Linked DNA regions of Homo sapiens. The protein of the gene in region 1 interacts with the protein of each later gene in a pairwise test. Each region holds a gene or a part of one and is shown on either strand. Other genes may lie near its edges. The genes, in order: ANKRD29 and GTF2H5.

The links.
Region 2: the proteins of ANKRD29 (region 1) and GTF2H5 interact in binary tests that used the Homo sapiens proteins (3 or more experiments, as listed by UniProt).

Annotation. Positions count from the first base shown.
Region 1 is NC_000018.10:23,660,040-23,664,347, reverse strand, and holds the start of ANKRD29 (ankyrin repeat domain-containing protein 29), read left to right. Parts: upstream 1-1,436; 5' UTR 1,437-1,617; coding exon 1,618-1,638; intron 1,639-4,308.
Region 2 is NC_000006.12:158,185,130-158,188,940, forward strand, and holds part of GTF2H5 (general transcription factor IIH subunit 5), read left to right. Parts: intron 1-3,811. UniProt on the Homo sapiens protein: Component of the general transcription and DNA repair factor IIH (TFIIH) core complex, which is involved in general and transcription-coupled nucleotide excision repair (NER) of damaged DNA and, when complexed to CAK, in RNA transcription by RNA polymerase II.

The DNA.
Region 1 (4,308 bases):
GAAAAAACAAACAAACAAACAAAAAACTATTAAAGCAAAACCTCTGATGCTTGATTTTTATATAATAACGTTGTGTGGCAACTTAAAAACTGTGTCATTTATAGGCACTCAAGGCAAGGAAAATGTTTAGAGTCCTTATTTTTAAAATTGGAATTTTCTATAAAAGTTCAGAATGTTTTTAATTTAAAGTTGTTTTAAGCACAAAGTAATACAATTTATCCATGAAGGTTAAACATTTTAATTTTTATCATTAACTTTTATTTGTAATTGTTTTCTACCTTTTAAATTAAATATTCGTTACAAATTTAATTGAGAAGAGGGAAGGAGGGGGAGAATGAATGAGTGGATTCTTATAGTTTGAGGGGGTAAGACCTCCATTTTTATACTATTTTTTTGTTTTGTTTTTATTTTTATTTTTGAGGCAGAGTCTTGCTCTGTTGCCCAGGCTGGAGTGCAGTGACCGAATCTTGGCTCACTGCAGCCTCAACCTCCCAGGTTCAAGCGATCCTCCCACCTCAGCCTCCCGAGTAGCTGGGACTACAGGTGCGCACCACCACGCCTGGCTAATTTTTGTATTTTTAGTAGAGATAGAGTTTTGCCATGTTGGCCAGTCTGATCTCGAACTCCTGGACTCAAGTGATCTGCCCGCCTTTGGCCTCCCAAAGAGTTGGGATTATAGGCGTGAGCCACTATGCCTGGGCTACTTTTTTACTTTCACTTTTCTAAAATGCTCTCAAAGAGCTGTTGTTGCCGTTTATACTTAAAACTCCCAGTTTTACTTCGCCCAAACCAATCCTGGGCAGGCAGCAGGAGTGGACACACATACTGCAATACTCCAGGGCTGCAGCATCAGACCCAGAGGAGGAGGGAACTGCTGGATTAATAACGCGGAGGAGGAGGAGGGGTATGAGTCTATTCCAAAATTGGCCTTTGCCCTTCAAAGAGGAAAAGACCACTTATTGTTTGTGCAATCAAAAGGTTTGTTTCCTAGATATTTTCCCCAGGAGAAAAAAGTTTCCCAGGAAACCGAGAAAGAAATTATAACGAAAATAGCTATTGGATGAATTTTTTCCTCAAGCTTCATTTTTACATCATTATAATATTTGTGCTGTAATGAAGGTTGGGAGTCCTCTGGGGCAGACCAGTCTATTTGGGAGGATATGTATGGAGTTTGTGTGTGAGTACATGCGGGTGAGTGGGCGTGAGTGTGGAAAGTATGTGTGTGGAACCTCTGTGTGTGTGGAATGTGGAGCGTATGCACAATGTGTGTGGAGTTTGGAGTGTGTGTGTGGACGAGTGAGTGTGGAAGTGTGGACGTGTGTGGAAAGTGCACAGTGCGTGCGGAGTTTGGGGTGTTTGTGCACGCGCGTGTGTGGCAGGTCCTGGAGCGCGTCCACGCGACACCCCATGTGTAGTGTGCGCGCGCGCGCGCCCCCGCGCCGCCCCTTCGGCCCGGCCCTGTGTGCGGCGGCTGCTGCCGGGCCGGGCGGCGGGAGCGCGCGGCGTCGGAGGCCGCCCCTCTGCGGAACGCCGAGAGCCCCGGGAGAGTGAAGGGCCGGGGAGGACAAGGCGCCCCGGGCCCAAAGCGCGCCGGCTCCCGCTCGGGCGGCCGCGGACATGTGCAGGATGTCCTTCAAGGTGAGCGACCGGGACTCCGGGGTCAGGGCTGGGGCCGGGCTCGGGCGGCCGGGCCCGCGGGGTCGGGTGGGGTGGGATGGGGTGGGATGGGGTGGGCGCTGCCCGCTGCCCGCCGCCTCCTCCTTCCTCTCTCCTCCAGCTGCGGGCGAGGCCCGGGAGGAAGCGGCGGGGCTGGGTGCGCCCTGTGGGTTTGCGGTTTGCCTGCCTGCCCTGCCTGAGAGGCTTCGCACTCATGGCTGTGGATCGGCTGAGTCTGTGCCCGGCGACGGGGCGGCGGGGACTGTCGCCGGGTAACAGGTCGGGGGCGGGTAAGAAGCCTGGGGTCAGCGCTGTCCTGCAGCAGAAGGAGTCCCCGACCCTGACCCTCTGGGTCCTCATGCAGGAGTACCAGCTGCACCCACGGATGCCTCCTCCCCGGAGGGGTGGCCAGCACCCAGGGAGGCTTCAGGGTCCAAAGGTGTCTTGTCTCAAAAGAGTTGATTAAAGTCATTCCATCTAATCCCCACATTTTAGGATGAAAGAGGTTGATTTGCCTCGATTGAAAGGGTTTAATAAAAATAGCAGTTAAAATGTATTAAACAGTTCAAATGTGCCTGACTCTGAACCAAGGACATGGTGTGTATGGTCTCAACCCTGGGGGAGACCTGTGGGAGGTGCTCTTCGTGGCTCTTTTTTTTTTTTTTTTCAAATGAGAAAACTAAGATATAGAGAAATTAACTCACCCACGGTTTTGCAGCCAATAAGTTATGGTGTTAAGACTGAAACCCAAGTGTGTCTGACTCCTAAGCCACTGTAATCCCGTTGCCGACAATAGCTCATGTAAGCAGAGGAGTGACATGGCGAGATGTGCATGTTGCAAAGATCTCTGGCTAGGTTTGGAGAAGAGGGTTGGAGCTGGAAGATGTTGTCATCTTTTTAAGAAATGGTACTGGACCAGTGCATAGGTGGTGAGAATGGAACGAAGCAGACGAATGTGAATGACTTTAAAGTTTTTTTTCCTGAGACGGAGTTTTGCTCTTGTTGCCCAGGCTGGAGTGCAATGGTGTGATCTCAGCTCACTGCAACTTCCGCCTCCCGGGTTCAAGCTATTTCTCCTTCCTTACCCTCCAGAGTAGCTGGGATTACAGGCGTGCGCCACCATGCCCAGCTAATTTTTTCGTATTTTTAGTAGAGACGGGGTTCTGCCATGTTGGCGAGGCTGGTCTCGAACTCCTGACCTCAGGTGATCCACCCTCCTTGGCCTCCCAAAGTGCTGGGGTTAAAGGCGTGAGCCACTACGCCCGGCCGACTTTAAAAGTTTTAAATCGGCATAATTCAGTAGGGAAGGCAAGAGAGATAAAGATAAAACGTTTGGTTTGGGATAAATTTTGAGGATAGATGGGAATCCAAGCAGAGATGTTGATTAGACAGATATACTCTCCTCGATCCCAGGAGGCAAGTCTGGGCAGCAGCTAGAGATGAGATTTAGGAGTCAGCAGTGTTAAGTAGGCACCCATGGGAATGAACATGATTGCCCAGTGGAACCATATAAAGGTGGAAAATAAGAGGACTGAGGACAAAATCTTGAAGAAGATTTGAGAAAGAGCAGCCAGAGACGAATGAGAAAACTCAGAAGCATGTGCTGTCACTTACACCAAGCATCTCTAATCTTTCAACAAAGATGAAGAGGACCTTGATGTTTATTAATGCCACAGGGAAATCAAATAAACAAAGAATTGAAAAGTCCATTGGATTTAGTGACGGAATAGGCACTGGTGACCTTGCCAAGAGCACTTTCAGTGGTGTTAGGATCAGGAGCCAGATTGCAATAGCTTGAAAGAGAGTGGGTAGAATCCACAAGTGTGGAGAACTCTTTCAAGAAATTCTGCAAGAAACAGATTTTTGTTAGTTTGTTTGTTTGTTTGGACAAAGTCTTGCTCTTGTCACCCAGGCTAGAGTGCAGTGGCGCAATCTTGGCTCACTGCAACCTCTGCCTCTCGGGTTCAAGCGATTCTCCTGGCTCAGCCTCCTGAGTAGCTGGGATTACAGGTGCCTGACACCAAGCCCAGCTAATTTTTTGTAATTTTAGTAGAGACGGGGTTTCGCCATGTTGGCCAGCCTGGTCTCGAACTCCTGACCTCACGTGATCGCCCGCCTCAGCCTCCCAAAGTGCTGGGATTAGAGGCATGAGCCACGGCACCCAACCCAGAGATTCTTTTTAAAAGGCAGTGGCTGCAGCAAGGATCTGGAATTGACCAAGTGTTTGTTTGCTTTAAAATGGTAGAGACTTGAGCATCTTTAAATGATGATAGGCACTTCAACAATAAAAAGACAAATAAAGCCTAATTTTAAAGTGGACATATGAATAGACATTTCTCCCAAGAAGTTTACAAATGGCCCGTAAGCACCTGAAAAGATGCTTAACATTATTAGCCATGGTCTTGGAAATGCAAATACAAAACTGTAATGAGATACCACTTCATACCCGCTAGGATGGCTTTAATCAGCAAGACAATGACGAATGTTGGCAAGGATGTGGAGAAATTGAATCTGCATGCATTGCTGGTAGGAGTATGAAGTGATGCAGTCATTTTTATTTATTTATTTTATTTATTTTTTTGAGACAGAGTCTCACTCTGTCAGCCAGGCTGGAGTGCAATGGCATGATCTCAGCTCACTGCAACTTCTGCC
Region 2 (3,811 bases), on another chromosome or scaffold:
CCTTAAACTTTGAGTGTCTTTTTTTTTTTTTTAATAATTAAAGAGTCTTTTTAAATCATTACATGTTATCTTTACTTCAGGTACATGCTTGAAAATTCAATCTCAAATTGTCTTTCAAAAGTTTGAGGCATGCCAGACACGGTGGCACACGCCTGTAATCCCAACACTGGGAAGCCGAGGCTGGAGGATCGCCCAAGCCCAGGAGTTCAAGACCAGCCTGAGCAATGTGGTGAAACCCCATTTCTACAAAAAATACAAAAATTAGCCAGGCATGGTGGCGTGCGCCTGTAGACCCAGTTAGTCAGGAGGCTGAGGTGGGAGGATTACCTCATCCCTAGGAGGTTGAGGCTGCAGTGAATTGGGATTGTGCCACTGCACTCCAGCCTAGGCAACAGAGTGAGGCCCTGTCTCAAAAAAAAAAAAAAAAAAAGTTTGAAGCGATTGATATTAAAGCGTTATTTCAGTGTTCACTGGCCAGTCATTCCTCTAAGCTGTCTCATTTGTCAGTTAGCATATTTCCCCAAGTGTGCGGAATACCATTAGTGTTCAAGATGATTTGAAGAACATACATTTTGGGGGAGTAGAATAGAAAAATAGGCCAGGCTCAATGGCTCACAACTGTAATCCCAACACTTTTGGAGGCCGAGGCGGGTGGGTTGCTTGAGTCCAGGAGTTCGACATAACAGAACCCTATCTCTACAAAAAAATACAAAAAAAATCTGGGTGCAGTGACATGTGCCTGTAGTCCCAGCTACTGGGAAGGCTGAGGTGGGAGAATCATCTGAGCCCAGGAGGTCAAGGCTGCAGTGAGCCGTGATGACGCCTACTGCCCTCCAGCCTGGGTGACGGTGAGACTCTGTCTCAAAAAAAATAAAGAGAGCAAAAAAATTTTTTATATGACCAGTTTAATTTATTTGAGGAGAAGAGGAAACTGACATATCAAACTCTTGGTTTTATGCCAGATGAAACGTTAGTTGATTTAAAGGCAATTTAAAGAAAAATATTAAGTGATTTGCAACAGAGATGTTACAAGAGATGGCTAAAATAGCAAGGATGGTATACAAATGGCAAACATTTTGAAAGCATTGGTGTGATGATTCAGCACAGATATGAGTCCTGAGGCGCTTCTTGGTTTTAGTGGTTTAGCTCTGACTTCATTAAGATGATGTAAATTTATTCCATTTAGAAAATTCCCAAAGTCTTCATAACCACTTAACTCTTGCTGCCTTTAATACCTGTTAGTAGTAGCCAGTTACTGAGAATAAATTGGTGTCATCTGAATGTACTGAGCTCAAACTGTAACAAGTTAATCTATCACATGCAGACAGCAATGTTTCAATGTCCAGTTTGTCTTTTATTACTGTTACATTTGGATCCAAAGTTTATTTTAAAGGGCTAACACAAAACAACTGTTGGTCCTGTAAATCAAAAAGTATCTGAGACAAGTCTCAATCAATTTTGAAGTTTATTTTGCCAAGGTTAAGGACATGCCCATGACATATCCTCAGAAGGTCCAGACAACTTGTGCCCAAGGTGTTCGGGCTACAGCTTGGTTTTACACATTTTAGGGAGACAAAATATCAATCAATACATGTAAGATGTACATTGGTTCAGTCTGGAAAGGCAGGACAACTCAAAGCAAGGGGAATGGGGGGCGGGCTTCCCGGTCATAGGTAGATTCAAAGATTTTCTTATTGGCAGTTGATTGAAAGAGTTATTATCTAAAGACCTGGAATCAATAGAAAGGAATGTGTGGGTTAAGGTAAAGAGCTGTGGAGACCAAGGTTTTATCACGCAGATGAAGTCTCCAGGTAGCAGGCTTCAGAGTTGTTTTTGTTTTGTTTTGTGTTTTGTTTTGTGTTTTGTTTTGTTTTGTTCTTATTAGACGAAGTCTCCCTCTTGTCTCCCAGGCTGGAGTGCAATGGTGTGATCTCGGCCCACTACACCCCTCACCTCCTGGGTTCAAGCGATTCTCCTTCCTCAGCCTCCTGAGTAGGTAGTATTACAAGCGCCTGCCACCACGCCCGGCTAATTTTTGTATTTTTTTGTAGAGACGGGGTTTCATCATGTTGGCCAGGCTGGTCTCGAACTCCTGACCTCAGGTGATCCACCCACCTCAGCCTCCCAAAGTGCTGGGATTACAGATGTGAGCCACCGCACCTGGCCCAGAGCTCTTATCAGACCTAAAAAGGTGCCAGACTCCCCTGGATCAGGGAAAAGACCTGGAAAGGAATGGAGAGTCTCTACAGAGTCGATTATTCCCACAAGAGACAGCTTTGCAGGGCCGTCTCAAAATATGTCAAAGAAACATATTTTGGTGTAAAATACAATTTCTTTCAGGGCCTGCCATCTGCCATGTGATGCTTTACAAAAGTCAAGCTGGAATTTGGTGTTTTATTCCTACAAAAAGTCTGTTACCTGGGTCTTAAGATCTCTGTTTTTTTGTTTGTTTGTTTGAAATGGAGTCTCGCTCTGTTGCACAGGCTGGAGTTCAGTGGCGCGATCTTGGCTCACTGCAAGCTCCGCCTCCCAGGTTCATGCCATTCTCCTGCCTCAGCCTCCCGAGTAGCTGGGACTACAGGTGCCTGCCACCACATCTGGCTAATTTTTGTATTTTTAGTAGAGATGGGGTTTCACCGTGTTATCCAGGATGGTCTTGATTTCCTGACCTCGTGATCCGCCTGCCTCGGCCTCCCAAAGTGCTGGGATTACAGGCGTGAGCCACCGCACCCGGCCAAGATCTCTGTTTTAATGTTAATACTGGTCAGCTATGCCTGAATTCAAAGGGAGGTGGGTATGAGGCATGCCCAACCCCCATTCCCATCATGGCCTGAACTAGTTTTTCAGGTTAACTTTGGAATGCCCTTAGCCAAGGGGAGGGTCCATCAGTCAGTTGGCAGATGGGGGGTGGGGTGCTTAGAACTTTATTTTTGGTTTACAATCCCATTGTGTAAAGTGTATACTAAGAAACCTCTATGATTTTTATAGAATATATTGAAGTACTTGTGGGGCCTGGAGAGTGAAGTGGGCACCACGGTCATATGAGTCCTCCCTTGTTTGCAAGGAAAGCTTAATTGTAGAGCACTGAAGTCCAGGTTTTTGTCTGACTCTCCCCTCCCCAGCCATCATACCTGTCTACTGTTGAATTACTCTCCTTTTATTCTCCCCACCAGTCCCTCCCCTTCTACCTTTATTTGTATGTGCAAGGAAGATTTGAGGGAAACAACTAAATTTTTAAAGAGTCTGAGTAGAAAAACAATGGTTTTCAAGAAACTGAAACTTTGGTTTCTCTGTCCTATAGGCCTCATTTTCCTTTCTGCAATATCATCGGGAAGCACCCTGTTTAACCTGCTTCATCAACCCCACGTTCCTTCTAGAATTGCTCTTCAAGCTTTTTTCTATTTTATGTTTCCACCTGTGCTCTTTGTCAATAATTAATCAATTGTTTACCTCTGAAATTTCTCAGTGTACAGTGTCTTACTGTTCTAGAAAATCTTTTCATTTAAATTCTTATTCTGTATAATACTCAAATTAGAGAATTGCTGAAAATGTGAAGTTTAACATTTTTTTGTATCTGCTTAAATCAGTGACCATTATGCTCTGTTTGTAAAATACCCCATTCATCCTCCTGTCACCAGCTGTTGTTGCCATTCAGTTGCATGTCAGTGTCATCCCGGAGATCCTCATTCTCATTAAGCCTTATATGCCGATTTTTCCTTTTTTTCAGTCACCCAATAAACCACAGACTCCCAAGCTATCTCTGTCTCTTGCATTTTCATGATCTATGGCCCTGTTCACCATCTCCTACCCA